Homo sapiens: one gene and its partners. The protein of the gene in region 1 purifies or fractionates together with the protein of each later gene. This does not show direct contact. Each region holds a gene or a part of one and is shown in the gene's direction. Other genes may lie near its edges. The genes, in order: WRNIP1, RNF146, HTR2A, HTR2B, SPATA2, TMEM171 and LDAF1.

What was found.
Region 2: the proteins of WRNIP1 (region 1) and RNF146 purify together in Homo sapiens (co-immunoprecipitation; one large-scale study listed by IntAct). This does not show direct contact.
Region 3: the proteins of WRNIP1 (region 1) and HTR2A purify together in Homo sapiens (tandem affinity purification; one large-scale study listed by IntAct). This does not show direct contact.
Region 4: the proteins of WRNIP1 (region 1) and HTR2B purify together in Homo sapiens (tandem affinity purification; one large-scale study listed by IntAct). This does not show direct contact.
Region 5: the proteins of WRNIP1 (region 1) and SPATA2 purify together in Homo sapiens (co-immunoprecipitation; one large-scale study listed by IntAct). This does not show direct contact.
Region 6: the proteins of WRNIP1 (region 1) and TMEM171 purify together in Homo sapiens (co-immunoprecipitation; one large-scale study listed by IntAct). This does not show direct contact.
Region 7: the proteins of WRNIP1 (region 1) and LDAF1 purify together in Homo sapiens (co-immunoprecipitation; one large-scale study listed by IntAct). This does not show direct contact.

The regions. Positions count from the first base shown.
Region 1 is NC_000006.12:2,778,426-2,782,616, forward strand, and holds part of WRNIP1 (ATPase WRNIP1), read left to right. Parts: intron 1-837; coding exon 838-1,067; intron 1,068-4,191. UniProt on the Homo sapiens protein: Functions as a modulator of initiation or reinitiation events during DNA polymerase delta-mediated DNA synthesis. In the presence of ATP, stimulation of DNA polymerase delta-mediated DNA synthesis is decreased.
Region 2 is NC_000006.12:127,272,959-127,277,149, forward strand, and holds part of RNF146 (E3 ubiquitin-protein ligase RNF146), read left to right. Parts: intron 1-4,191. UniProt on the Homo sapiens protein: E3 ubiquitin-protein ligase that specifically binds poly-ADP-ribosylated (PARsylated) proteins and mediates their ubiquitination and subsequent degradation. May regulate many important biological processes, such as cell survival and DNA damage response.
Region 3 is NC_000013.11:46,886,925-46,891,115, reverse strand, and holds part of HTR2A (5-hydroxytryptamine receptor 2A), read left to right. Parts: intron 1-4,191. UniProt on the Homo sapiens protein: G-protein coupled receptor for 5-hydroxytryptamine (serotonin).
Region 4 is NC_000002.12:231,107,696-231,111,886, reverse strand, and holds the end of HTR2B (5-hydroxytryptamine receptor 2B), read left to right. Parts: intron 1-2,477; coding exon 2,478-3,370; 3' UTR 3,371-3,657; downstream 3,658-4,191. UniProt on the Homo sapiens protein: G-protein coupled receptor for 5-hydroxytryptamine (serotonin). Also functions as a receptor for various ergot alkaloid derivatives and psychoactive substances.
Region 5 is NC_000020.11:49,905,154-49,909,344, reverse strand, and holds part of SPATA2 (spermatogenesis-associated protein 2), read left to right. Parts: intron 1-752; 5' UTR 753-854; coding exon 855-1,190; intron 1,191-2,499; coding exon 2,500-3,726; 3' UTR 3,727-4,191.
Region 6 is NC_000005.10:73,126,827-73,131,017, forward strand, and holds part of TMEM171 (transmembrane protein 171), read left to right. Parts: intron 1-1,563; coding exon 1,564-1,705; intron 1,706-4,191.
Region 7 is NC_000016.10:21,164,779-21,168,969, forward strand, and holds part of LDAF1 (lipid droplet assembly factor 1), read left to right. Parts: intron 1-2,061; coding exon of another isoform or gene 2,062-2,133; intron 2,134-4,191. UniProt on the Homo sapiens protein: Plays an important role in the formation of lipid droplets (LD) which are storage organelles at the center of lipid and energy homeostasis. In association with BSCL2/seipin, defines the sites of LD formation in the endoplasmic reticulum.

The DNA.
Region 1 (4,191 bases):
AATTTTACTGAGTCAGCCTTCTGATCATAGTTAGATCTTATTTATGAGGGTCCAAATTTAGAAATGTGACTGTAAGTTTTAGTCCTGATGTTCAGAGAGAGGTTAGGTGGCTTACCCAGGGTCTCATGGCTATGTACCAGCAGTCTTCTCGTCGCTTCCCAGGCTAATGACCTCTCTGCTACCCTGTGCGGATTTTGCATGATTAGTGTCCACTATGAGATGACCTACTGCAGCATCCCAAGATTCCCCAGGCCAAGAGAATCCTGAGACCTGCTTCTAGGACCTGCTGTGCTCAGAGTAACTAGGGACCCAATTTGTTGTTTTTAAAATGAAGGAATTGAACTGCATGATCTGGAGCCCTTCAGAGCTAATATTCAGATATAATGCTGACTCTCCCCTGTGTGGAAAGTGGTCTAAGCACATCTGTCTCATCGGATGTAGGCTGCATTTGGAACATGTTTTCCATACACGGTAATGAGGTGCTAGCATTTCTAATAAAGTTTTCACTGTTGTGCAGGGTAGAACCAGAGAGACCACCTGTCAACAGTGACTTTCCAGGCCAGTCAGTGTCTGTTTCACACAGACTTAGATGTATGAACCTATGCAGTGAGATACCCTCGACACTCATAAGATACAGGGCGATAACCTGGTGACTTAGGAGCCCCAGTCAGTTCGTAGTCTTGATGATGCTTAAGCACATTGACAAAGGTGAGAATAAGAGGCAAAGGCCTTGAACTCTTCAGTGTCCTTGCTGAGAAGTATGAGTTTCTAAGACATGTGCAGAACAAGAAGTATGCAGCCTGAGTGTGACCGTAACTAACCCTGCTTGTGTTTCAGGCCCGCCATGTTCATAGAGGATAAAGCAGTAGACACCCTGGCTTACCTCAGTGACGGTGACGCCCGAGCTGGGTTGAACGGACTGCAGCTGGCGGTGCTGGCTAGGTTAAGCTCTAGGAAGATGTTCTGTAAGAAGAGTGGGCAATCCTATTCTCCCAGTAGAGTTCTGATCACAGAGAATGACGTGAAGGAGGGCCTACAGCGATCCCACATTTTATATGACCGGGCAGGTAAGTAATTCACCTGTGGAAAGAGTGAAACCATACGGAAAGAAGTGTGTGCACACATTCTCATTTCCGGAAGCCTGACTGGGTTCCGGAAGCATTCCAGCTGGGTCCAGAGCATTCCAGTGATTCTCAGGTGGATCTGCATGTTGGTATTAAGCCTTCTACACAGGGCTGACCTTTCCGAAGAGAGGCATGAAGCAGAAGCTGCCCTGTTGAGAATCTAGAGGAGTTTTGGGGTTGGAAATGGCAGGCTGCACATTCACCTTAGAAGGTAGTTGGCTATTCCCCACCTTGCAGAATACAATCACCTTTGAAAGCCTGTGCATTCACTTGACAATGAATATGTTTTGTGATCATTTACAACGGCAGTAAATAAAAAGAGGACTTTTGTCATAATGACTTATTAGTTTTAATTGAGAATTAAAATGCTTTATTTCTAGAGTCTATACTAAAAAATAGTCATGGATCTTGAAGTTTTTATTTTATGTAGTAGCTTTTTCAAAAATTTAATTTTGCTGTGTGCACTTATCTGTTTTTGTAGAACTGCATTTACAGATAGCAGATTTGATACCAGCTCTTATTAAATCTGTGACTTAGCAATATTAAATGTCATTAGCACAGCACATTTGCATCTTTTTATAAAAGAAGTGGGAGATGAATATAACATACTGTAGATTAGCAAACTTCTGCTGCTTGAGCATTTGTGGGACTTTGGATGGAATCATGTTGCAGTAACTGTGGAATATAATTTCCACACTTTTCAAAGCTCTGCCAGAAAAGGAGGCTGATAATTGAATGTTCCTGATCTCACGTAGGCTGTGCCACGTGACAATGGAGAGTCCTTACTGGTTAGAGAAGGGGTGGAGGGGCTTAAGAATGACTTTGGTTCCAAGCGCTGCCTCTTCGTGGGTGAGCACACTCGCTGCATGACCTAGGGGGGCTGACCAAAGCTTTTTGGCTTTAGCGTGCCTCAGCTGATGGTAGCTCAGGGGTGTTCATTAGTGCTAAGGACACACTGGCAAGTTGAATAAATAATCCTGTCTACATTGTGACGTGAATGTGCCTCAGCGGGGCCTGCTCAGATGGCTGGCTCTCCCTAGTGCTCTGGAGCATGACGTGAATGCTTGCAAAGTCTGAAAAGCAACACATTCTAGGTGTGTAGAGCCCTGCTTGACTTTTGGTCAAATAGAAAAAATGTAGATATGAACAAGAAAAAAGATTTTAAGACATTAAAAAAATCTCACCATGCCGGGATCGCCATTGTTTCTGAAGTGCAGCAGCAGCGGTCTCTCTCTCTCTTCTTGTAGGTGTCCCAAAGGATTTGCCTTGTTTTGATTGGAACGACTAGGACTGTTCTTTGACATTTTATCAGACTGTCACTTGAGATCCATATAACATGGCATTCACTAACACTCAGCCATTGAGTATTTTATAGGTGTATTCATTTTTTAAATTCTCAAAATTGCTTTATGGAGATAGCTATTAATATTACCCCCATTTTAAGATAACAAAGCAAGTGGTGAAACTGACCCGTAAATCCAGGTCTTACTGGTTCCCAAGACTGTCCTTCCCCCCGTCCGCATTTGCCTCCACACCAGCCTTGCCATGCTGTTACTGATCTCACCCATTACATCATGCTCCTGAGAGGGGTCACCCGTCCATGCACATACAGAGCGGATCTTGGAGGGGTTCAGTCCTAGGAATCCCACTTCCTGAGCTCCACGTTGCAGAGCTCTGCACAGTGGGGATCACCTTGTCTATAGCTTGGAGCTGGGGGGTGGTGGAGGCTGCCTAGTGCCGCTGCCTAGTGCCAGCGCCTTAAGAACCCCACATCCTATACATCTTCCCAGTATGAGTGTGTTTACACACCCCACCCCAGTGCAACATGTCTGCCCCACAGTGGATCCGCAGACACATAAATATCATTCAGATCTTGGAGAAAGCTGCTTTTACAGGCTTTGCTCTATAAATAGGGATAGTGGAAGCATTGCCCTGGAAACCTGTTAGCTTATACTCTTGGGCCTTTTTATAACTCCAGTGAGACAAAGACCCACCCCCAGAGTTGTGATTATTTTTGTATATGCCACCTAGTTCATAGTTACCCACTAGTAGGATCCAGTGATGTTTCTGCATCAGAGTGAAGGAATTTCTAAATGAGAGCAAACTCTCTGCCATGCATTGACATCGGGGTTCTATAGAAGTCGTCAGATTTCAGGTTATAAAGCAGTGTGTAATAAAAGCAAACATGGAAGGTAGCATAGAATAATACTAGTATCTATCACTGATGCAAAAGAATCTTTTTACAGTGCCTGCTCTGTGCCAGGCGTGTGTTATTTAATACAGCCCTGTGAGGTAAGTGGTCTCGTTTTTCCCATTTTACAGATGAGAAACCTGAGGCACAGTGAGGATCAGGAACTTGCCCATGGCCCATGAGCTTGGGGGTCCAGCCCAGGCTGTTTGGTCCCAGAGCCTGTGCTCTTGTCCATTATACTGGTGGTATTGCCCCTGGCATTGACAAAGTGGGAAAAGATGACTAACCTGTGTAGGGGGAGTTTAAATTTGACATAAAGTGGTGTGGGTAGTTTCTTCCAGCCCCCATGCCCGTGAGTTTAGCCAGGCCTGTTACCTGCTACCCTCTTCCCCGCCTTCCTCCACCCTGCAGAGGAGCAGAGCGTAGCCTGAGTGCCTGGGCCAGCAGGGTGAGGGAGTGGGCCAGAACCATGCAGATGTCATCCAGGACACCCTCTCGGCCAGTGTCCATAGCACTCTGACTTCACCAGGGGAGCCCTGCACAGGAGACACTCAGTTTGTTCTCAGAAATCCAGTAGCTGGGCTGACCCATCCATCTGCCCTGGCTCTCAGAAACCAGAATCACTCAGGCTGAGCCGTGGGTCCTGCAGGTCTTTCCCCTGTGGGAGGCCAGCATCTTCGCTTGCTCTCTTCTCCACCTGAAGACCAACTGTCATCTTACCAGCGAGCTCAGCTGCCAGGGTTTGTGGCTGGCGCCAGTCGTATTGTGGACATGGGCTTATGCTGAGCACAGACCAGGTGCTCCTCTGGGAGGAGTGAGACTCACGGGAACACCATCCTCCGCTTTCTCGTGAGGAGGGTGCCCCCTCCTTGAACT
Region 2 (4,191 bases), about 120 Mb from region 1:
TGTGTTTATGTTACCTGTTTATAAGGTGTCTGTCTGAAATGATGGGTAACTGCAGCTGCAGACCCATCTAGGGTGTGTACCAGGTAATTTAACTTCTTGTAATGGCATGACTTCTTGGCTTCTTGGGAGCACTTCTAGCATCACTAGTGGCACTTCACATGGGTCCCATGGTGTTATTCAAGGTTTATGGTATTGTACTAAACATGATGAAAAATACACAAGAACAAGAGATTACATTTTACTCCAATACATGCAGAGATGATTAGTGTCCACAGCATTTTAAGTGGAAATTCATAATAGCAACAGGAAATTATTACAGTATGTACTACAATTAATTTTATACAGCTATGATTCATACTGCATCTTTACATTTGTTTAAATTTCTTGTACCACCTCAAGTGGCACCATATGTGTCTGTGTTTACTAAGTTTTGATACACTTTAACTTCTTATAATTTCTCTATATTTTATAATACTAAATGATAAAATAGACTATATATGTTTTATGCATTCATAATATACCTAATTTTTTCTTTTCCTTTTTTTGATGTTTCAAGACTACATGATTCATCTGCAAGTTTTTTCAAATTGTCACAAATCTCCAAAAAAATTTCCAACATATTTATTGAAAAAACTGTATGTATATAAGTCAACTTGTTCATTTCCAACCTGTGTTGTTGAAAGGTCAGCTGTATGAGGTTATCGTCAAAGATCTTTAAAGAAAGAAATGACATCATCAATATTTTGAAAATTAGAGAAAGCCATTTCTAAAGGAATCCTAGAAATGACTTCAGGCCAGAATTAGAAAAAAAAAAATTGAAGAAATAGGCTAAATAAATATGTCTTTGGCTGTGTTCTTTTGAAAATGGCATTAATGTATAGAAAGATACTCGAATGTGAGTTATGGTCACTGATACATTCTTTTGTTTACTGCTGAACATAACTGGACTAGAGGAGTGTAATGAGGGCAAGGATGTTCTTTCTGTTGAAGGAGAAAGTTTATATTGATGGAAAGTCATTATTCATAGATACTTTGCTGTTATTTCAGTACTATTAAGTAAATAGTTCTCTGCTCCTGGGTTTGTGTGTGTGTGTGTTTTCTTTATAAGGGGCTTTTTCAAATAATTTTGCTATTGATAAGTTACTTGAATTTAATCATTAGTCTTCAAATAAGGAAAGCAGAATGAGAGAATGCATCTCCTTGAATTAACCAGATTTTTTTTTAGTACCTTTGTTCTAGTGGATATGTAGCAAAGCTTTTACTTTAATATTTGTGGCTATAGCTTTATTTCAGCTATGTGAAATAGTTTTATAGGAAAGATCACAGCTTATTTGGGTGTTCAAATATGGGTTCTTTAGAGGATTTTTTTGTACTTATTTTGAAGCTGCTTTGTTTCAGTTAACTTAGATTCCTTTAAGAATCAACTTTTGTTTCAGAGATAAAATATTTATGGATAAGACCTAAGTAAAGTAAGTGAATAGAGAGGAATAAATTAGATTGGTTACAGATAATGTGTAAATGCATTCAGGAGATAAGGAGAATTAGAAACAAGGACATTTTTTGTGTATTTCTTAGGAATAAAATGGTACCTTCTACACATCTCAATTATTAAAGTACAAATAGTGATTGAACGAAATTTTTAGAAGAAATGTTTTAATTGAATCTTCACACTAGAGGTTTTACCATTCAATCAATTAGGTTCTGAGAAGGATGGATTGGTACATCTTAAAAGACTTGTAAGATAGCGAAGGATAGGCAGTGCTAATGACCAACAGCAACACTCAGCAGGACTTTGTGGACCAAAAAACTTCAAGTTAGAATTGTGGGTAAAGGCTGGGCATGGTGGCCCTCACCTGTAATCCCAACACTTTGGGAGCCTGTGGTAGGAGCATCACATGAGGCCAGGAGTTTGAGGTTTAAGTTACCTGCAGTCATACCACTGGACTCCTGCCTGGTTAACAGACGCTGTCTCTTAAAACAAAACAAAACAAAAGAATTGTGGGTAAAGTAAGAGCAAATTGACTTTTGAGTGATGGTCCGAAAACCTTTGTGATGGGTAAAGGGTAGAATGTCTGTATAATTTTTCTGAACTGGAACACTTGTTGGGAGACCAAGGGCAAACTGGATAGATGCTGGGCTGACCTATGTGGTCATCCTAGTGAAGAATCATAAGCTTTATTGGGGAAAGAGCTTTGTGAAGCTGTTTTGGCTGTTCAGAAACCCATCTTGGTTTATGCTTAGATTTTTATCTCCATTTTGGAGAATTCATTGACAATGAACAATAGCTGGGTAAATGATTTGCTTGCCAAAAGATACAAAGATGGGTTGAATTTTATATTTGTAAATGTAGGAACTCCTTTAGATTTTAAGTTATATAAAGCAAGGATTAGAACTTAGATATTTTTATGTATCTTACAGATTCCAGCTTGAGTTCACAATTAGAACTCAAGTGTTGTGTTATTTGAATAAATCTAATCCTTTGATATTCTGTTCCTCACAATAGTTACTTTTAGGAGTTGATTTTTCATTCATCCAAAAAATATCAGTTCAACAAAAATTGATTGACAATTTACTAGCTATTTAAAGATATAAAAATCTCCCTATCTTCAGGGGATTCATGATTTCACAGAAGAGTCAGACTTCACAAATGAATTGAAATTAGTGCATGTGATAAATTCCGTAATAGAAAAACATACAAAACATAGAGGAGAGAACAGTTAACTTTCTGGAGGTAGTCAGAGAAAATGGTAGAGATAACCATTTCTGTGTAATATATTAAAGAACAAATAGGCATTCATAAGCTGTAAAAGGGAATAGATCGTACCAGGCAGGAGGAAATACAGAGCTACAAAGGGAGGTTTGCAGGACTATGAGTAATTTTATACAACTAGATTATTAATCTATGGGTGGTTGTTGAAGATAAAAAAGACTAGAGACTAATTATTTACAGTTTAGATCTTTAAAACCTTTTAATGTTGTCCTAAGGAGCTTTGTCTTTATTGTGTAGGCTGAGGACCCAATATTGTGCTTCACATATGGAAGAAACCTGGTCCATTTTGCCTTTTAAATATATCAGTCAGTCCTAGCTACTTGGGAGGCTGAGATGGGAGGATCGCTTGAGCCAAGCAGTTTGAGGTTTTAGTGAGCTATGATCATGCCACAGCATTCTAGCCTGGGAAACAGACTGTAGAGTGAGTGTATGTGTGTGTGTGTGAGAGAGTGAGAGAGAGAGAATCTCACTCAAAGGCTTAATAAATGAGGGTGATACTGACACAAGATAATCAGGCTGAACAATAGTCCAGGTGAGAGTTATGTAGGTTTAAACTAGGGCACTAGCAATGGGTAGAGAGTACAGGATAGATTCCAAAGGGATTAGGAATAAAAGTTGACAGAATTTATGGTGTGGTTGGTTGGGGTGGGGGAGCAGGGGGCTGTGTGGTGAGAGAAAGGACTTTCTCTTTTTCTCCATGAACACAAAGTAGTTAAGACATGAAACCTGAGATGTCATATTGTAAGAATTATGCAGAAATGGGGGTTTGTAAAATGTGTGTATATGAGATAAAGATATGAGGGGGCCAAGGGTTCTGTTAAGAAGTAAAAAAGATTGGGTTCCAGAATGGGCAGGAAAGGAAATGAGATCAGGAACTGGATAAAGGAAAGGAGATGGTCAAGAGATGGTAGGTCCCCATGAAATTGAAGAGCAGGTGTGGGAATGAGTAGGCTGGAAGAACCAGAGCTTGTGATCTGAGAGTCGGATTAAGATTTCAGAGAGGCAGCAGTTTAGGTGACAACTAGCTTTAAATGTGATTATAATATTTGGTTGCTGGAGAGTAGATTAATTTCTTCAAATTTAGGATTTAAGGAACTGAAAATTGAGGATGGTGTTTCTCAGATTGTATTTGAAGGACTAAAGCATGAGTACCACCTGGGGTGAGATTCCTAGGTTTAAACCTATGTCTACTGGCCTAGAATTTCTAAGGAAAGGGGCTGAGAATATGTATTTCTAACAAGCAATTTCAGTGATTCTGATGAATAGAAGTTGGGACAAGTTTAAGAACCTGTGCAATAGGTGTTGGATGGTTCATTTTCAAGGCTATTTAAATAGGCTGATAGTCATGTCAGGAGTTAGGATGAAGAGGATGATCAGTAGTGAAAAGATGACATTAATCCCTTACAGGTGGTGAGAGAGCA
Region 3 (4,191 bases), on another chromosome or scaffold:
TCATGTCTCCAACTTGCAGCAGGACTAGGACTCTAAACTTCCAGCACCATGCCCTGTTCTTTCTGTACCTTCCTTAGGAAACAGTTTTTGCTCCTAGAAAATGCTTGTAGTTTCTGGGACTGTGCAAGTTGGACTCATTCTACTAAGAGCAAGAAAGTGAAGGGCCAGTAACCACTCAATCCCAATTACACATAAAATGCCCCTGGGAACATTCTGATTTAATTGCCTAGGGTGAGGCCAGGTGATTCTAAGGGGCAGTCAGAGTTGAAGACCACTGAGACAGGTTTTCAGGGTGGTCAGCGTGATAAGTAGGAGAATCAAGATTAATGCAGAGGGAGCAAATGAAGCTATTTATTTTTACCCTGATACACTGTCCATAGTTTTACCCCAATATACTGTGCCATTGGTGAGACAAATGCTGGGAAGGTCAACCATCTTTTCCTCAGCCACACTGACTCCCCCATCTCATTCAGGCTTCATGATAACACCAGTAGTAAGGTAACAGTTTCTGAGCACTGAGTACGGACCCAGTAGTATACAAAGCCCCTTAAAGAAAATCAGCTTCAGAGAACTCAGTTGCACAGGATGATATCACTTATAATCAGGAGTCAATATGGGTCAATCTGAGTCCAAAGCCCATGCTCTTTCCACTGCACAAAAGATAGCCAGAAAGAGCCAGAGGCAGACTATCACCACAGGAGGCAGGCAGGCTGGAATGATTGTGGTGGTGCCAGGCAGGGATCATTCATCCATCCACTTGGCCAGTCTTTTTGAGATGAAGTTTCGCTCTTGTTGCCCAGGCTGGAGTGCAATGGTGCTATCTTGGCTCACCGCAACCTCCGCCTCCCGCATTCAAGCTATTCTCCTGCCTCAGCCTCCTGAGTAGCTGGGATTACAGGCATGTGCCACCACGCCCGGCTAATTTTGCATTTTTAGTAGAGACAAGGTTTCTCCATGTTGGTCAGGCTAGTCTCGAACTCCCGACCTCAGGTGATCCCCCTACCTTGGCCTCCCAAAGTGCTGGGATTACAGTCATGAGCCACTGCCCCCACATTTGACCAGTCTTGTAATGTGCATCTACTATGTGTTTGGCACTGTATAGACCAAGATGAAAAAGATATGCATTCAAAGATCTCTCACAGTAAGGTAGGAGAAGACAAGGAAACAAAAGAATAAAAAAAAGTTACATAGAATCTATACTAGAAGTCTGAGGTGTGTGCCCTGAGGAGGGGGCAAGCGGAAAATGTAAAAAGGAAAAAGGCAGATCTAATGAAGGACCTACAGAGACTCAGCACAAATATTCTCTTGAGTTTTCTTCTAGTGTTTCTGTTTTGATTATTTTGCTTTGGGTTTAGTTTTTTGTTTGCTTTGTGTGTGGTTTCTTTTAATTTAGATCCTTAGTCTAGCTGGAATTTTAAAATATGATCTAACTTGTTTGCTTCTACTAGTAACTAAAGCTTTTTTTAGACTCAATTGATATTTTCTCTTCAAGCTATTGATATGTTCACTCTCTTGGTAAATTTCTAAATGTAATACTGTCTTACATTCCTGGAATATTGAGTTTGTATGACAAAGTTGGTTGGTTTATGATTCTTACAAGTTTTCTTTTTCTAGCTTTATTAAATGATAGAGAAGTTTCCACTTTCCCTAAGTCTTGAAGTCTTTAAGTAGAAATTACATGTTTTTGAGAGGTTATGTAGAACTTGGTTCCAAATCTCTTCATCCTGGCTCCTTTTTAAATAGTATTTTAAGTTACATTTCTAACTTCTATAGTTATTGCATTTACATTTTCTATACCTTCATGGGTTATTAGCTGCATACAAATTTTAACCTTTACATTGATTCTTTTATCATTAACTGTCCCACTTTATATCTAGTGATGCTTCTTGATTTAAAATCTATTTGATCTTAGTATAGCTACGTTAATTTTCTTTTGATTATCATTTTTGGATATATCTTATTTCATCCTGTTACTTTCAAACCTTTTGTGACTTTAAAGTGTTAGCCTGTAAGCAGCATATAAAGTTTTGTTTTTAACCCCATCTTTGTCTTTTAGTTGGAGTATTTAGTCCTTTTACATATAATGTTAACTCATATTTGGGTTTAAATCTGTTATCTTACAATTTGCTATTTTCTTATTTGTTCTATATTCTAGTTTCTTTTCATTCTTACCTTCTTTTGGACTAATCAAGAATTGTCAATTCATCATTCCCCTTTATGAGCTTGTTATCCATTGTTTTAAATTACTTCAATGATTACAACATTCCTTATTGACCTTAGAGTCTAAAACAAATTATTACTTGTAACACTTCTCGGATAGTGCAAAAACTTTAGAACCTTTTAGCTCCATCTATCCCTGTTGTCTTTTGGGTTTTTCCCTATTTACTAAATGTCTTTTTTAAACCCATAAGACATCATTATAGCCATTCTATTCACTATTTCTCACATATTAACCCCTGTTGCTGTTTATTGCTTTCTTCATTTTCATGATTTTGCCTGGGTTCCTCATTCCTGAAGAATTTCCTCTAGAATATCATGTCGTTTGTTCTGTTTTTCTTATCCTAAGCATCTTTATTTTGCTTTCATTTCAAACACATTTTTGTTCAGTATAGAATTCTAGGTTGACAGTCATCTTTTTTTTTTTTCAGCACTTCATAGGTGGCAAATCCAACATTCCAGGCTTATATTTTTTGTTTGTAAGAATCCAGCTGTCAGTCTTATTTTTATTCCTTCAGAAACATCACCTTGTGCCACGCCCTGCTGCTTCAGAATGTTTTGTCTCTATTTTAGCAACTTTATCATGATGTACTTAGTTGTGAATTAGTTTCTGTTTTTATCCTGCATGGTGTATGTACTGATTCTTAAACTTGTGACTTTGGCCACTTTGACAAAACTCTTGGTCACCATCTTTTCAAATATTGCTTCTGCCCCATTCTCTCTCTTCCTCATGTCTGGGACTCCAATCTCATGTATGCTAAACCTTTTACCTAAGTTCTTTATAACTCAAGCACTTCTACATTTTTTTTTTTGCTTTGTTCTTCAACTTTTAAGTTCAGGGGTACATGTGCAGGATGTGCAGGTTTGTTACATGGGTAAACGTGTGCCATGGTGGTTTGCTGCACAGATCATCCCATTACCCAGGTATTAAGCCCAGCATCCATTAGTTATTCTTCCTGATGCTCTCCCTCCCACCTCCCCCCACCAACAGGCCCCAGTGTGTGTTGATCCCCACCATGTGTCCACGTGTTCTCACGATTCAGCTCCCACATATTAGTGAGAACATGCAGTGTTAAACACTTCTACATTTTGTACATTTTTCTCCTTTTATTTCTTGAGATAGCTTTACTGACTTTTCTTCTTCTGTTACTAGTCCTCTCATCAGCTACTTCTAATCTGCCTAAGACCCATCTCTTGTTTTCTTAATTTTAATTCCTACACTTTTAGTTCTAGATTTTTTCATTTAATTCTTTATAAATTCCAGGTTTTTAGAATAATTCTCCATGTTTTCATCTATTTTCTTAAATATTAATCACAAGTTATCTGGATCTCTCTTTTCTGGGTTGTGGGATTACCTAGGGATTTCTCTTTTCTGAGTTTTGGGGTTGTTTTTCTCTTCATTCTGTCTGTTGATATGTCTGGTAATTTTTTTAATTGAGTACTGTGTATGCCTGATAATTTTTTTTTTTTTTTTTTGAGACAGAGTCTCACTCTGTCGCCCCCGCTGGAGTGCAGTGGCGCGATCTCGGCTCACTGCAAGCTCCACCTCCTGGGTTCACGCCATTCTCCTGCCTCAGCCTCCCAAGTAGCTGGGACTACAGGCGCCCGCCACCACACCCGGCTAAATTTTTTTTTGTATTTTTAGTAGAGATGGGGTTTCACCATGTTAGCCAGGATGGTCTCGATCTACTGACCTCATGATCCGCCCGCCTCGGCATCCCAAAGTGCCGGGATTACAGGCATGAGCCACTGCGCCTGGCCGCCTGGTAATTCTTTTTAATTGAATACTGGACACTGAAATAAAATGTTTGGGTGTTTTGTTGATACTGCCTTTCTCCAGAGTGGAGTCTTTTAGCATTAACAGCAGTTAAAGTAAGCACAGTTCCCCTTAATCCAATAAGGGATTGAGTTTATTTAAGGCAAGGTTCTTATAAAAGCCAGTCTATTTCTAGTTTGCCTTTATACCTAGGATGT
Region 4 (4,191 bases), on another chromosome or scaffold:
CATATAAACAAATTACACTAACACAAAGTGATGAGTGATGCAGGAGAAAAAAGATTAAAAGGAAGACTCATGATATATAGATTTAGAAATCCACTTCTTCCTTTTGTAGGTAAGAAAAAAGAAACCTAGAGGTTTTAATCAGTTGGCTTAAGAACTCTTACAGCTTTTCAGCACCAAGGCCAAAATCAACGCTCTTTCACTTCATTGCACTTTGTCTTGTAGAACCGATCACAAATTAATAACTTTGAAAAAATGAAAATGCAGATGACAATAAGCTCAGTTCTGAAATTCTACAAAATGCTGAAGAGAGCTCACTCTCTTCTTTTGGATTTACAGTTATTCTAGGTAATACCTGGCAACAGAAAGTATAATAATATAACAGGGTAAGGGCATAAAAAGTACCAGTGAAAACTTTTACAGTTATTGACCAACAAGCTGGATAGGAAAGTAGTGTGAGTCCTGATATTAACAGAATGTAAAAACTGAGATGAATGAAGTCTCATTAATAGAATGAGTTAATAGAATGTGAAAACTGAGATGAATGAATGAACTAGAGATAAAAATAACAGGAAACAGAAGTTCTCTAGGAGTGAGGGGTAGCAGGACAAGGAAGGGAAGTATTAGAGTTCATAATCTTAGGGATTGTTCTAAGTAGACTTGTAGATGGCTTTAGTGCAAATAATAATAATTAGAGTCAAAGAGTTCAAGAAATATAAAATTAAGGTCTTAGAAGGGTCACGAATGGGATGAAGTAGAAAATGCTGGCACTGGAACAGTGGAGAGAAGACTATAGCAGGTACTGAAGCCATTGATGAAGATGAACAAATGTCATGGAGGTTAACAGAAAAGCAAGATGGAGAAGAAAGTATTAAGTAGATAAAATAAACTTCAAAAGGCAAGTGTTTTGGGGGAGAAATAAACAGTGGAATGGTGATCTGAAAGTAACAGGGTAAAGCAGGGGTCAGCAAACTTTTTCTATAAAGGGTAAGACAGCAAATATTTTGGGCTTGCAGGGCGTATATGGTTTCTGTCACAGCTCCTCCATTCTGCTGCAGTAGAACAAAAGCAGCCACAGACAATATGTTACTAACAAATGGGAGTGGCAGTATGCCAATAAAACTTTTACAAAAATAGAATGTGGGCCAATGGTCCTCAAACTGTAGTATAATGACCCCTGGTGTAGAACAAGTATACAGAATCCTCTTTCTGGTGGTGTACATGAGGAAAAGTAGAGAAAGTAATGACCTCTGTTAGAAAGGGTTTGAGGAACATATTCTTGTCAATGGCTCTTTAGCTACCATAAAAAGGGTGTGTAGATGAGGGGTGCTCTTGGATTCACAAAACAACACAAGGATTCCAGAGGTTTCTAAAGATCAATTAATTCAGACATTTAAAAAATATCTGCTGTTTCAAAGGAAAAAGATTCAGGTTAACCCCTGTATTATTTGTCTTTCTAATAAGCTACTTCACTAAGAAACATCATATTTAAATACTTCATGGTATTTAAAGATCAGAAAACTAACATGAGGTATATTTCTTTCCCAGGTCATAAAAGAACTTTTTTTTTGAGACAGAGTCTTACTTTGTCGCTGAGCGTGGAGGGCAGTGGTGTGATCTCGGCTCACTGCAACCTCGGCCTCCTGGGTTCAAGTGATTCTCCCACCTTAGCCTCCTGAGTAGCTGGGAGTACAGGCGCGTGCCACCATGCCTGGCTAATTTTCATATTTTTAGTAGAGATGGGGTTTCGCCATGTTGGCCAGGCTTGTCTCAAACTCCTGACCTCAAGTAATCCACCCCCACTTGGCCTCCCAAAGTGCTGGAATTACAGGCATGAGCGCCACTGTGCCCAGGCTTCTACAGAAGAAGAAAGATTAAGAACTCATAATCTTTCAACATCATGATTCACACACACTCAAATTTTAAGTAGCACTTTTTAATGAACTTTAGTTTTCCCTAAGAAGTTAGATGGAAAGGATTAAAAGACATTCACACATATCAAAAGGAAAAACTGTTAAATGAAACTGTAACCTCAAAGACAAAACTGAGTAAAGATATTGAATAAATGTACTCTGAAGTGCCTCTAGATCAACTACACTGGATAATAAGAAAAAAGCAGGTTCTCTTCTGAATTTCTCTTCCTTAATCTGAGATAGCTTAAAAAACAAAAATAGATTATGAGAAATGTAGAATAAATGAAGACATTCTCCACTGTATCATGGATATACTATAGCTTTAGGGGAGCTTTCATTATAAATCTGAAATTACTAACCAATCTCCGTTTAAAAACAGATTTGCTCACTTAGGTTCTGTTTGTCAAATCTTCACTGATGAATGCTTCGACAAATCCTGCATTGTGGGTCCCAGGAATTATAATGCACCAACAAGCATAAAGTTATAAGGATACAATCCAAAAGGATCTAATCGAAGAGTTACAGGTCATAAAATGACTCAATTTATCTTGTTTTCCTCTTCCTTAGGCATTGCCATTCCAGTCCCTATTAAAGGGATAGAGACTGATGTGGACAACCCAAACAATATCACTTGTGTGCTGACAAAGGAACGTTTTGGCGATTTCATGCTCTTTGGCTCACTGGCTGCCTTCTTCACACCTCTTGCAATTATGATTGTCACCTACTTTCTCACTATCCATGCTTTACAGAAGAAGGCTTACTTAGTCAAAAACAAGCCACCTCAACGCCTAACATGGTTGACTGTGTCTACAGTTTTCCAAAGGGATGAAACACCTTGCTCGTCACCGGAAAAGGTGGCAATGCTGGATGGTTCTCGAAAGGACAAGGCTCTGCCCAACTCAGGTGATGAAACACTTATGCGAAGAACATCCACAATTGGGAAAAAGTCAGTGCAGACCATTTCCAACGAACAGAGAGCCTCAAAGGTCCTAGGGATTGTGTTTTTCCTCTTTTTGCTTATGTGGTGTCCCTTCTTTATTACAAATATAACTTTAGTTTTATGTGATTCCTGTAACCAAACTACTCTCCAAATGCTCCTGGAGATATTTGTGTGGATAGGCTATGTTTCCTCAGGAGTGAATCCTTTGGTCTACACCCTCTTCAATAAGACATTTCGGGATGCATTTGGCCGATATATCACCTGCAATTACCGGGCCACAAAGTCAGTAAAAACTCTCAGAAAACGCTCCAGTAAGATCTACTTCCGGAATCCAATGGCAGAGAACTCTAAGTTTTTCAAGAAACATGGAATTCGAAATGGGATTAACCCTGCCATGTACCAGAGTCCAATGAGGCTCCGAAGTTCAACCATTCAGTCTTCATCAATCATTCTACTAGATACGCTTCTCCTCACTGAAAATGAAGGTGACAAAACTGAAGAGCAAGTTAGTTATGTATAGCAGAACTGGCAGTTGTCATCAAACATAATGATGAGTAAGATGATGAATGAGATGTAAATGTGCCAAGAATATATTATATAAAGAATTTTATGTCATATATCAAATCATCTCTTTAACCTAAGATGTAAGTATTAAGAATATCTAATTTTCCTAATTTGGACAAGATTATTCCATGAGGAAAATAATTTTATATAGCTACAAATGAAAACAATCCAGCACTCTGGTTAAATTTTAAGGTATTCGAATGAAATAAAGTCAAATCAATAAATTTCAGGCTTTAAAAAGAACCACTGTCATCATAAAATTTATTTGGTTTCTAATTATATGCAAAGTTGTGCTAAGAATGAAATAAAACAAAACAAACATTAGCCTTGCCTTCCAGGTCTTAAAAGCATAAGGCATGATACAGAACAAAAGGAACACAGAGCTAAAAATAAGTGCACAAAACAGTGATCACATCTGGAGGTGAGTTAAGATTGCCATTTATAGTCTGATTTAGTTGAATGCAGTCATAATTTTCCTCTGATCAGGAAACTGTTTTGATGGAAGGGATAGGGAGGATAGTAGCTGGATATCACACAAAATAACAAGAACTTGGAACTAGACCTGTTTGTTAAATGACTGATATTGAGCTTCTACTCAGCACAGGTAGGTCTATTGGAGAAGGAGGAAAAAGCAAATAAAATCGCTCTTGGGTACCTGAACCACATTAGGTTTCTTAGAGATATTAATTAACGTGCACAAGCATGGGATCTTAATCAGGGATACAAACTTTAAGTGAGATCATGCCTGCCTATGTATGCTTGTCCAGTGACTCAAGT
Region 5 (4,191 bases), on another chromosome or scaffold:
ATTGTTTAAGAAGAAAAAGTGAGGCTGGGTATGGGGGCTCACACCTGTAATCCTGGCACTTTGGGAGGCCAAGGCTGGTGGATCACTTGAGGTCAGGAGTTCGAGACCAGCCTGGCCAACATGGTGAAACCCCATCTTGACTAAAAATACAAAAATTAACCAGGCGTGGTGGCAGGTGCCTGTAATCCCAGCTACTTGGGAGGCTGAGGCAGGAGAATCGCTTGAACCCGGGAGGCGGAGGTTGCAGTGAGCTGAGATCACGCCACTGCACTCCAGCCTGGGCTACAGAGCAAGGATCCATCTCAAAAAAAAAGTAAGCGAGTTAGTGTGTGTGAAGCTCGTCACGTGTCTGGAGCCTCTGGTACTATTAGCTCAGGGCCTTCCTCTACTGCGACTCCTTCCCCGGCCTCTTGGCCTGGCAGACTCCTCATCCTTCAGGTCTGTTGCTGTCTCAAGAGGGCTTTCCTAAACTCGCCCTTCCCCAACGAAACCAGGACAGGAGCTCCTGCTGTACTCACCCGAATTTCTCTTTCAGGAATATTAATCGTATTTTTCATTTGTGAGCACAACAAAGTCAAGGTCCATCTCTCTCTGGCCTCTGTTGTAACCCTGCTTGTAGTACATGCTCTGTAGTGTGCTGCTGGGGTCCAGTGTAGCCCAGGCCAGTTCTGCTGTTCATTTTGCCTCAGCGACCTGAAGCCGAAGCGCGACCGTATCGAGGAATGACATGCTTCTTGTTCCCCTCCTTCCAGAGCACTCCGCTGGTCCAGGCGGCAACATGTCCATGCTTTTAGTGATGTCCCTGCCTCTAATCCAGAAGCCATGGAGGAGATAAGGTAGCCCCCCTCGATCGGATGGGGAAGCCCAGTTCAATGGATACTAAATTCAAGGATGACTTATTTCGGAAGTACGTGCAGTTCCATGAGAGCAAAGTGGATACCACCACCAGCAGGCAGCGGCCTGGCAGCGATGAGTGCCTGCGGGTGGCAGCCTCAACCCTGCTCAGCCTGCACAAGGTGGATCCCTTTTATCGATTCCGGCTGATCCAGTTCTATGAGGTGGTGGAGAGCTCCTTGCGCTCGCTCAGCTCCTCTAGCCTGCGGGCTCTGCACGGCGCCTTCAGCATGCTGGAGACGGTGGGCATCAACCTCTTCCTCTACCCGTGGAAGAAGGAATTCAGAAGCATCAAGGTGAGGTCCTGGAGCAGCCTCCATACAGGCCCTCCTTCTCTCTTCCTGCCCCTGGCAGTCCCTCCTGAGAGGCTATGCCAGTCTGATCCCATCCATCCTGTGCTCTCAGATCCTTCCGGGCTCCGAACCTTCCCCGTCTCTCCAGCATCACCTCTGAACCGTTTCTGGCCCGGCTGCCACACCTTAAGCAGAGAAGCTGGGAAGGCAGGGGCAGCCAGGTTATGCAGGGTCTTGTGGCCCAGGGCAAGGCTTGGATTTGTTCTGAGTAGGCGGGGAAGGAGGCAGTGTGGGATCTGGCTTGCATCTGAAGAGGGTCATTCTGGCTGTGGTATGGGAAGTAGGCTGTAGAGGGGTGGGGGGAGGTGGGAGGGATGGGGAGAGCAGTTAGGAAGCTTCTCAGCGGTCCCAGCAAGCTGAGGGGTGTTCTGTACTAAGTGGGAACAGTAGAGGAGGAGGGGGAATTGAGAGAGGGATCCTGAATCAGACCACGCGGGGGATGGCACAGGAGAGCTGTCACCTAGCCAGGCTTCTTCATTCTGCCATGGGAGGAGTGGTAATCAAGAGAGGGGATGGCACAGGAGAGCTGTCACCTAGCCAGGCCCTTCAGTCTGCCGTGTTACTCAGCCCCTCATGGAAATACCAGAGAGGAACGTTCTGATTGTCACCGCGTTCTGCCTGTAATCTGGCCCCTTTATTCAGCCATGTTTGCCCAGGCTCTCTCTTCATATGGAGTAGAGTCTTCGTGCCCCACTAGGAAGCGAGAGGTTTTGCTTCCTGTGTTTAACAAAGTAGCTGCTGCCAGGCGCGGTGGCTCACACCTGTAATCCCAGCACATTGGGAGGCCGAGGCGGGTGGATCACGAGGTCAGGAGTTTGAGACCAGCTTGACCAGCACGGTGAAACCCCATCTCTACTAAAAACAGAAAAATTAGCTGGGCGTGTTGGCGGGCGCCTGTAATCCCAGCTATTCAGGAGGCTGAGGCAGGAGAATCGCTTGAACCCAGGAGGCGGAGGTTGCAGTGAGCCAAGATCGCACCACCGCACTCCACCCTGGGCAAAAGAGCGAGACTCCGTCTCAAACAAAAGAAAGGAGCTGCTGGGTCATTTCCTTGCACAATTCCTGAGTGCTTAGCAAGCCCCAGCTCCTGCGTCTTCTGCCTCCCGCAGGGTGAGGCTGTCGAGATCCTTCCCTGCCCTGCCCTCTCCCCGCCGCCCCACTTCAGAGCTGGACATCCTTTGCTTTGACATAGTCTCTGTCTTGTGTCTCTGACAGAAAACCCCACCTTTCTTTTCTACTCCCTCCCTTCTAGACCTACACGGGCCCTTTTGTTTATTATGTCAAGTCGACATTACTGGAAGAGGACATCCGAGCCATCCTGAGCTGCATGGGCTACACACCTGAGCTGGGCACTGCATACAAGCTCAGAGAGCTCGTGGAGACCCTCCAGGTGAAGATGGTCTCCTTTGAGCTCTTTCTGGCCAAAGTCGAGTGTGAGCAGATGCTAGAAATCCACTCACAAGTGAAGGACAAGGGCTACTCCGAGCTGGACATTGTGAGCGAGCGCAAGAGCAGTGCAGAGGATGTGCGCGGCTGCTCGGACGCCCTGCGGCGGCGGGCAGAGGGCCGGGAGCACCTGACGGCCTCCATGTCACGAGTGGCACTCCAGAAGTCGGCCAGCGAGCGGGCGGCCAAGGACTACTACAAGCCCCGCGTGACCAAGCCCTCGAGGTCAGTGGATGCCTATGACAGCTACTGGGAGAGCCGGAAGCCACCCCTGAAGGCCTCATTGAGTCTTCGGAAGGAGCCTGTGGCAACGGATGTGGGGGACGACCTCAAGGATGAGATCATCCGCCCATCCCCTTCGCTGCTGACCATGGCCAGCTCCCCCCACGGCAGCCCGGATGTGCTTCCACCCGCCTCCCCCAGCAACGGCCCGGCCCTGCTGCGCGGTACCTACTTCTCCACTCAGGATGACGTGGATCTGTACACAGACTCTGAACCCAGGGCCACCTACCGTCGGCAGGATGCTCTGCGGCCGGATGTGTGGCTGCTCAGAAACGATGCCCACTCCCTCTACCACAAGCGCTCGCCCCCTGCCAAAGAGTCCGCCCTCTCCAAGTGCCAAAGCTGCGGGCTGTCCTGCAGCTCCTCCCTCTGCCAGCGCTGTGACAGCCTGCTCACCTGTCCTCCAGCTTCCAAGCCCAGCGCCTTCCCCAGCAAGGCCTCGACTCATGACAGCCTGGCCCACGGGGCATCTCTGCGGGAGAAGTACCCAGGCCAGACTCAGGGCCTCGACCGCCTCCCGCACCTTCACTCCAAATCCAAGCCCTCCACCACGCCCACTTCCCGCTGTGGCTTCTGCAACCGCCCAGGCGCCACCAACACCTGCACCCAGTGTTCAAAAGTCTCATGTGACGCCTGCCTCAGCGCTTACCATTATGACCCCTGCTACAAAAAGAGTGAGCTGCACAAGTTCATGCCCAACAACCAGCTGAACTACAAGTCCACCCAGCTCTCCCATCTCGTGTACAGATAGACCGGCCTCGCCCCTTCCAGCTCCAAGGGCTACATCAACCGACCTTTCGGGTTTCACGGTGAAGAAGTACTAACGCATTGATCTCAGAGGCGGAGGCCTGCACTTGACCATGTAGGTGGCAGAGATCGTGGGCTGGCTGTGTCCACGTGGGAGTTCACTTAGCGACTCAGATATCTCAACCAATGGCTGCTTTGTTGTCTGACAAGGGAGAAGGTGGCACTTCCGTTCAGATTCATTTTGCTAATCTCTCCACTCCCTGTTCAGTTGGTTCTTTTTTTGGGGTTTTGTTTTGTTTTGTTTTGTTGTTTTGTTTTTTCCTTTAAAGAGGATTTCTGTCTCTGGGACCCTCGCTGCACCTACCCCTCCCATTGCAAAGCCAACTTGGACTGGGAAGGGCCCTTCAGGTCACCAAACATCCACCTGGAGCGGCGAGCTAGAGGCCTGTTGGCTTGTGAAATGAGCCCT
Region 6 (4,191 bases), on another chromosome or scaffold:
GCTATTGCCAGCTTCTCAGAGGCTTTCACCAGGCCCCCAGCAGTGGTGCTGCCAGAGCTCTACACTGTTCTGGTCCACTTGTGTGGTGCATTTTATATTGGAATCGGAATACAAATTAGAGTTTGCATCTGGTCCCTAGTTTCTCCTCAAAACATGAGGATGTATTCTGGAGTGAACAGTAGCCACAGAAATGCAAAAACCAAACTTCTTTGGGTTCAACCTTCATCTGTATGGGTGAAATTTTGGTAAATAACAGTTAGGGGCTGTAATATGGCTTACTGTCATTTGCTCAGGGGCTGAAACTACATTTGAGGAACAAGGCACTTTAGCCAACAGCTAACTTGTGAATTAAAGTTGTAGGCTGAAAACGAGAAAAGCTTTTTCAGCAGTAGACACCCCAGAGGAGGGAAAGGAGCTTGTTAGCAAACAATTCACAAAAAGGCTTGGTCTTAGACTTGCTACAAAATATAGACCTGCTTTCATACCATAATTGTCAGCACTCTGGATTCTGAAATGTAGGCCTACTTTTAAAAAATTTGTGGTAAAAAAAAAAAAAAAATATATATATATATATATATATAAAGCATAAACAATTTAAACTGCTTTTTGTTTCGTTTTGTTTTGTTTTGAAACAGAATCTCACTCTGTCACCCAGGCTGGAGTGCAGTGGCATGATCCTGGCTCACCACAACCTCTGCCTCCCGGGTTCAAGCAATTCTCCTGCCTCAGCCTCCCGAATAGCTGGGATTACAGGCGCCTGCCACCACGCCTGCCTGATTGTTTTTTCTTTGTATTTTTAGTAGAGACAGGGTTTCGCCGTGTTGGCCAGGCTGGTCTTGAACTCCTGACCTCAAGTGATCCACCCGCTTCGGCCTTCCAAAATGCTGGGATTACAGGCGTGAGCCACCACGCCTGGCTTTTTTTTTTTTTTTAAGACAGGGTCTTGCTCTGTCACCCAGGCTGGAGTGCAGTGGTACAATCATAGTTCACTGCAGCCTAGAACTCCTGGGCTCAAGCAGTCCTCCTATCTCAGCCTTCCGAGTAGCTGGGACTGCAGGCGTGTACTCCCACATCTGGCTAAATTTTTTCTTTTAATTTTTTTGAGATGAGATAGCGCTGTGTTGCCCAGGCTGGTCTCCAACTCCTGGGCTCAAGCGATCCTTCCTCCTCAGCTTCCCGAAGTGGTGGGATTATAGGTGTGAGCCACTGCACCCAGCCAAACCGTTTTTAAATGGTTTAGTGGCATTGAATACAGTCACAATGTTGTTCAACCATTATCATCATCAATTTCTGGAACTCTTCCATTATCCCCAACAGCAACTCTGTACTCACCAAACAGCAATTCCCACTCCCTTCCTCCTCCCGAACCCCTCCTAGCCCCTGGTAACCTAGTCTACTTTTCTATCTCTATACATTTAATGGGCTTACTTTTAAATTTTGGAGTTAGCAGCAGGTGTGTTGACCTTTTATATAGATGGGCCAAATATATAATTAATTTTGCTTTTGCTAATTTGCTTCCATTTATTACCCACCTGTTGTCAACTAAATATTGTTTTGCCTTAGGTGACTCGGTAATAATATTTCCACCCCCTCCACCACCTTACTTTCCTGAATCTTCAGCTTCTGCGGTCGCTGAGAGTCCTGGAACTAACAGTCTGCTTCCGAATGAAAACCCCCCTTCATATTACAGTATTTTCAACTATGGGTAAGAATTTCAATTTGAACTTCAAGAGAGGCCTGAATTCAGGCCACACTAGTATTAAGGCTGTGTGGTTCACCAGGAGGCATTCAAGTGTGAGTATCTTTTTTGCTGATGTTATGTCAGAATTAGTGTCTTGATATTAACAGTACCTTTGCCGAAATTTGGGCAGCACATAAGTTAAAAATGATAAAGTGATCATGCTGGGTTAATATGAAGCCTACTCCAGGCATCTATCTTTATGTGCTCCTAACAGGGGTGATACTCAGAATGTTTAACAACCCTTGCCGGGTGCTGTGGCTCACACCTGTAATCCCAGCATTTTGAGAGGCCAAGGTGAGTGGATCACTTGAGCTTAGGAGTTTGAGACCAGCCTGGCCAACGTGGCAAAACCCTGTCTCTACGAAAAATAGAAGAATTAGCTGGGGATGGTGGTAGGCACCTGTAATCCTAGCTACTCGGGAGGCTGAGGCATGAGGATCGATTGAACGCAAGAGACAGAGGTTGCAGTGAGCCTGTTACCGGCGGAGGGTGTCCACGTACTTTGTGTTTTGAACAAAGAACTGGACAAAATGCACAAACGAAGCAAGGAAAGAATGAAGCAACAAAAGCAAAATTTTATTGAAAATGGAAGTACACTCCACAGGGTGGGAGCAAGCCTGAACAGCTGCTCAAGGGCCCAGTTCCAGAATCTTCTTGGGTCCAAATCACCCCTAGAGGTTTCCCATTGGCCACTTTGTGTTCACCTCATGTAAATGAAGTGGTGGCCCACAATCCGTCTGATTGGTTGCAGAAAGCAGCCAATCAGAGGCTGAAGTGAAGTTACAAAGTTGTTGTCCTATGCAAATGTCTGATTGGTTGCAAAAAGCAACCAATTAGAGGCACTTTCAATTTCCCATCTGCCGAAAGGTGGGTGTTTGCAAAGGGAGTAGTCTTTGGTCCTTTTGTTACTCAGGGGTGGAAAGTTAGGGTTTTCCTTTCAATTTAGTTCTAGGAAGTCAGCGTGAAACGGCCGTAGATTCCCTGCCTCCACACCCTATTCTTCTGCTCCAAGCCGAGATCGCGCCACTGCACTCCAGCCTGGGCAACAGAGAGAGACTCTATCTCAGGGGGAAAAAAAAGAATGTTTAATGACCCACCAATCAGACTGAGCACCAGGACTGGGCCAGGAGGCCCCTGCTATGCTAGGCTTCACTGCTTTAGATCATGGAGAGGTGTGAGGGTCTCAGGGGATCCCCAACAGTTACAGAAGGGCTTTAGTACTCTGATGGCCGTGCTTGGGTGACTGGCTAAAGTCAGCCTGAGCCCCGATCCAACACAACTGGGCCTCTCCTTCAATATTCGCTCCTTCCCTGGGCCGCAGAGAATATCAGGTCAATACCCACCCCACACAGAATGCAGCGAGGCAGGCTCTAGTGGGACGGGCCTGAGGTGCCAGGAGCCTGGGGGAGGGGGTCTGGATGGAGAATGACATTGAGGAAGAGGCGAAGATGATGAGTTCCAGGGTGAGTGACAGGGAAGCTCAGAGGTCCCCAACTGAGAAGACGTGAGTGATGAGCTTGGTTTCGGTGGGGAAAGGATGGTGGGCGGCTGATGGTGGCGGTACAGTGAGATGAGGGCCTTGGAGGCAGACTGGGAAGGGCTGGGTTTTGGGAGAGAGAGGAGGTGATGGAGATGGAGCTGCAGAGGTTGTTGGAGAACCAGAAGGGCAAAGAGTCAGGGACTAGTGGGAGACCCCCAGGAGGGGCTTGTGCATACCCCAGAAATGGTGTGCTCAGGGAGCAGGGCTGGAGAAGGCTCTGGTGGTACCTTCTAGAATGGGAAACCAGGGTTTAGGAAGGGAAGGAAGAATTGCTTCACATTGTCACAGGGTGAAGCAGGTAAGACAATGAGATATGTGCATTTTTGCATGCAGTGAGCAGCAGGCACAGAGAGACTGGTGCTCATTGCTGGGGATAGCACCACCTTACCTTGTTATTCGTGTTTAAGGAACTCCCTCTCCACCCTGCCTTGACAGAGCAGGCAGTGGGCCTTGGAGCAGGGGCCAGGGTGCCTTTTCTCTGGGGCCTGGAGGGAATGAAGTTGTGTAGAGATTCTTTTCCCACAAAAGCAGGGGGACAGGTTATCTGATGGGAGAGGGAAAGAGGTGGCTGACAAGGACAGAATTGGCTTTACAGCTTCATATGGGGTCGTGATGGGGGGATCCAGGGAGGTGCATGTGGGAACGGCCCTGCATGGAGAAAGGGCAGGCTAGGGCTGGACCTCTGTAGAATTCTCATCGTGAATGTTTGTATTTTTTTTCTTCTAATGATAAACTTCCCCAAACCCTAAAATCAGTGTCTAGTAACTTAAACTACTGCTGCTGCTACTATGATTTCTGTGTCCTAGGGTCTGGCTTTTCTTGCATTAGTTTATGTAACTCCCATATCCAGTCTAGGAGAAAGGAATGTTATCATCTTCATTTCAAGATAAGGAAACTGAGCTTTAGCAAT
Region 7 (4,191 bases), on another chromosome or scaffold:
TGAATAATAACCTCTCCCACTTTCCATCTTTCCATTGCATCCCCCTCTGTTGCCATGAGAATGAAATGTTAATTGCTACGTTCTACCCCCCTGAGTTTAAATAGTGTTAGGTCGTTCTTTTTTACCTACCTCGTAGCATTGTAGGAAGAAATAAATGAGGAAATAATACGAGAGGTGCTTAAAGCAGTGCCCAGCACCTGAGTGTTTAATGAATGTTCTCTGTTATTATTAGGTGTGGTTGAATCGTGTCCTCCCCTCCTGGGACAGACTGGCTGGAGCTCAGCTGTACTTCCTGGGAGAAGACAATTTCTGGGTTTAATCATCTGAATCTTGGTCTCTTTGCATATCTAAATGACTTTCTCTTTGATTATAGAGCCCAGACTCGGAAAAGACTAAGAATGGCGGGGCATGGTGGCTGATGCTTATAATCCTAGCACTTCGGGAGGCCGAGGCGGGCAGATCACTTGAGGTCAGGAGTTCGAGACTAGCCTGGCCAACATGGTGAAACCCCATCTCTACTAAAAAATATAAATATTAGCTGGAAATCGCCTGAACCTGGGAAGCGGAAGTTGCAGTGAGCCGAGATCATGCCATTGCACTCTAGCCTGGGCAATAGAGTGAGATTCCATCTCAAAAAAACAAAAGGCTAAGAAAAAGGTGGATTCCTTAAGGACTGAAGTGGAACAGTCTTGCCTGTTTCCTTTTATATCCCTGTGCCATACAGTCCCTAAGTCCTGTGTATTCCTTCTTTTGTCATTCCACTTTCATACCCATCTACCCCTCCCCCTTCTCTTCCCTCTCTGCCATCAGCCTGGACTTGACCACAGTATATCTTGCCTGATTTCCTGCAAATCTTTCTACCTGCCTCTTGCACATGATTGCTAGGTTCATATTTCTTAAATCATTCCTTTAATCATGTCATAGTTCTGCTCAAATGACAGCAGTTTGTTCCCTGTTTTTTTTTTCCCAGATGAAATTTAAATGAGTGCTGTCTAGCAGAAATATTATGTGAGCCACATATATAATTTTAAGTTTTTTAATAATTACATTAAAAACAAAAAGAAACAAATGAGATTAATTTTATTTATTTATTTATCTTGAGATGGAGTCTCGCTCTGTCGCCCAGGCTGGAGTACAGTGGCGTGATCTCGGCTCACTGCAACCTCTGACTCCCGGGTTCAAGTGATTCTCCCGCCTCAGCCTCCCAAGTAGCTAGGATTACAGGCACGCACCACTCTGCCTGACTAATTTTTTTGTATTTTTACTAGAGACGGGGTTTCACCATGTTGACCAGGCTGGTCTTAAGCTCCAGATCTTAAGTAATCTGCCCACCTCAGCCTCCCAAAGTGCTGGGATTACAGGTGTGAGCCACCGTGCCCAGCCAGAGATTAATTTTAATAATATATTCTCAATTTAACACAATATATCCAAAACACTATAATTTCAACAGGTAATATAAAAAAGTATTAATGAGATATTTTGCATTTTTTTTTCTTACACTTAAAGCACATCTCAATTCTGATGCCAAATTTTCATTGGAAATATTTAATCTCTATTCAGATTTTATAAAACTTACAATTCAGCGAAATAGATTCACATACCCAACCTATTGGAAACATACTTAAAATTTTTCCAACAACTGAATCAAGTCTCAGCTTTAAAATTTAAATTAAATTAAATTGGAAATCCAGGCCATCAGTCACAGGAGGAGCATTTCAAGTGCTGAATGGCGCAGGTGGCCTGTGATGGACAGCCCGGGGATAAGCTAGCAAGCCCAGTGTCCTGGTGTCCCAGCCTCACAAGTTCCTTCCGCTGCACAGCCCTTCCCTCGCTGGCGCAGCATACTCACGGGTGTACTGCTGCCTCCCTTTCCTGGAGAGCCCATCTGCTCTCCCCACTGTGGTTCTTTGGATTGTAAAGATCAGGTGACACAGGGAGCATCAAATAAGGATGCATGTGGATTCGAACTGGAAAGAAGTCAGGACCTGAGACAGCGCAAGGGACCAGCCCACATTCTGTGTGGTGACTCCCACGGCTCCTCCGCCTCTCTTTCTCTTTCAGCTGCCCCAACACAGCAGGATCTCACTGGACTCTGATGATGGAGTGTCCAGGCTGGGCAGTGCTGGCTCCAAGGTGATTCCTGCTACAGTCATCTCTGGCTAGAGAAGCGGAATAGCAAGCTCTTTGGTGGCTTTTGTCAGAATGGTGGGGTAGCAGGAGGCAGTGAGGTCAGCGGGCATTATGCCGTCCTGTGGCCTGGCAGGGAGTGAAATTGGCCATGCCTCGAGAGTAATCCTTAGGAGACCACGCTGAAGCCCAAGACCAATGGCTGTGGCTTCTTGGCATGGCCTCTTTTATTTAAGCAGGGTGCAGCTTGCACTTTAGTTCCTTCAGCATGAACCACAAACCCCTCCTGCCTTCCAACTCGCCCTGAAAATCCCACTGTTTAAACCACTTGGGTAAACTCTTCTTCCTAGGAGGCACATGTGTTTTGGGGACCTGAATTATGTCTTCTTTTCATCTGTTGGCCTGCAAGGCCGTAGGGATGAGGCTCAGGAAGGACCAGTTATGATGGAAGGAGGTTCTGGAATAATGGTTCCTTTCAAGTGAACAGGATCTAGAATACCAGTACTGAGGAGAGAGAAGGCGTGGAGCCTAAGGAGGAGAGGGGGAAACCCATCTTTGCGGATTTGCCTATGGCCAGCTCTGCGTTAAAGCAGTCTCCCTCCATTGAGTCAGATCGAAAATTCCTTTTTGCCCGGTGAAGGAAAATAAACTATTAACACAACATAAACTTGCATTAGTCACAGGCTGTGGCCAACTATGGTAACCAGGTTGATGACATAAAAGCATTTTTACTTGATGTGGTGGCAGCTGTTGCAAGCATTGGACATTCTGAGTCCAAGACCTTAGGTTTGTTTTTTTTTTTTTGAAAAGGAGACTTGCGGTGGGGCGCGGTATCCCACGCCTGTAATCTCAGCACTTTGGGAGGCCAAGGCGGGTGGATCGCCTGAGGTCAGGAATTCGAGACCAGCCTGGACAATATAGTGAAACCCTGTCTCTACTAAAAATACAAAACTTAGCTGGGCGTGGTGGGGGCGCCCGTAATCCCAGCTACTCGGGAGGCTGAGGCGGGAGAATGGCTTGAACCCGGGAGGCGGAGGTTGCAGTGAGCCGAGATCTTGCCATTGCACTCCAGCCTGGGCGACAAGAGCAAAACTCCATCTCAAAAAAAAAAAAAGAAAGAAAGAAAAGAAAAGGAGACTTGCTCTGTCATCCAGGCTGGAGTGCAATGGCGCCATCTTGGCTCACTGCAACCTCCGCCTTCCAGGCTCAAACGATTCTCGTGCCTCAGCCTCCCTAGTAGCTGGGACTACCAGCACGCGCCACCATGCCTGGCTGATTTTTGTATGTTTAAAAGAGACAGGGTTTCACCATGTTAGCCAGGCTGTTCTTGAACTCCTGACCTCAGGTGACCCGCCTGCCTCCACCTCCCAAAGTGCTGGGATTACAGGTATGAGCCACCATGCTGGCCAGGCCTTAGCTTTTAATGCTGAGATTTTGCCACTTGGAGGCTGTGCGACTCTAGACAAGTGATTAGCTTTTAATGCTGAGCTTAGCTTTTAATAGACAAGTGAATAGACAAGTGATTAGCTTTTAATGCTTACTAATAGACAAGTGATTAGCTTTTAATGCTTAATAATGCTTTTAATAATAATGCTTTTAATAATTATAATTATAATAAATAATATATAAATAATATAATACATATTATAATTATATACATATATAAATATAATATATTTATATAATATATAATAATGCTATATGAATATTGATAACTAATATTAGTATAATATATCTAATATAATTATACAATATTATAATTATGATTTTTATATTACATTACAATTATATTTTTATATATAATTATATATATATTTTTAATATTATATTATATTTTTATTTTATATATTATAATTATAAATATTTTTATATTTATATTTTTATAAATATAATTATATTTTTATATAAAATTAAATATAATTTAATTTTATATAATTATAAATATTTTTATATTTTATATTTATAATTATAATTTATATTATATATTTATATTTATATATTTATATTTATTTATATTTATATATTTAAATATTTATATTTATAGTATATATAATATAATATATT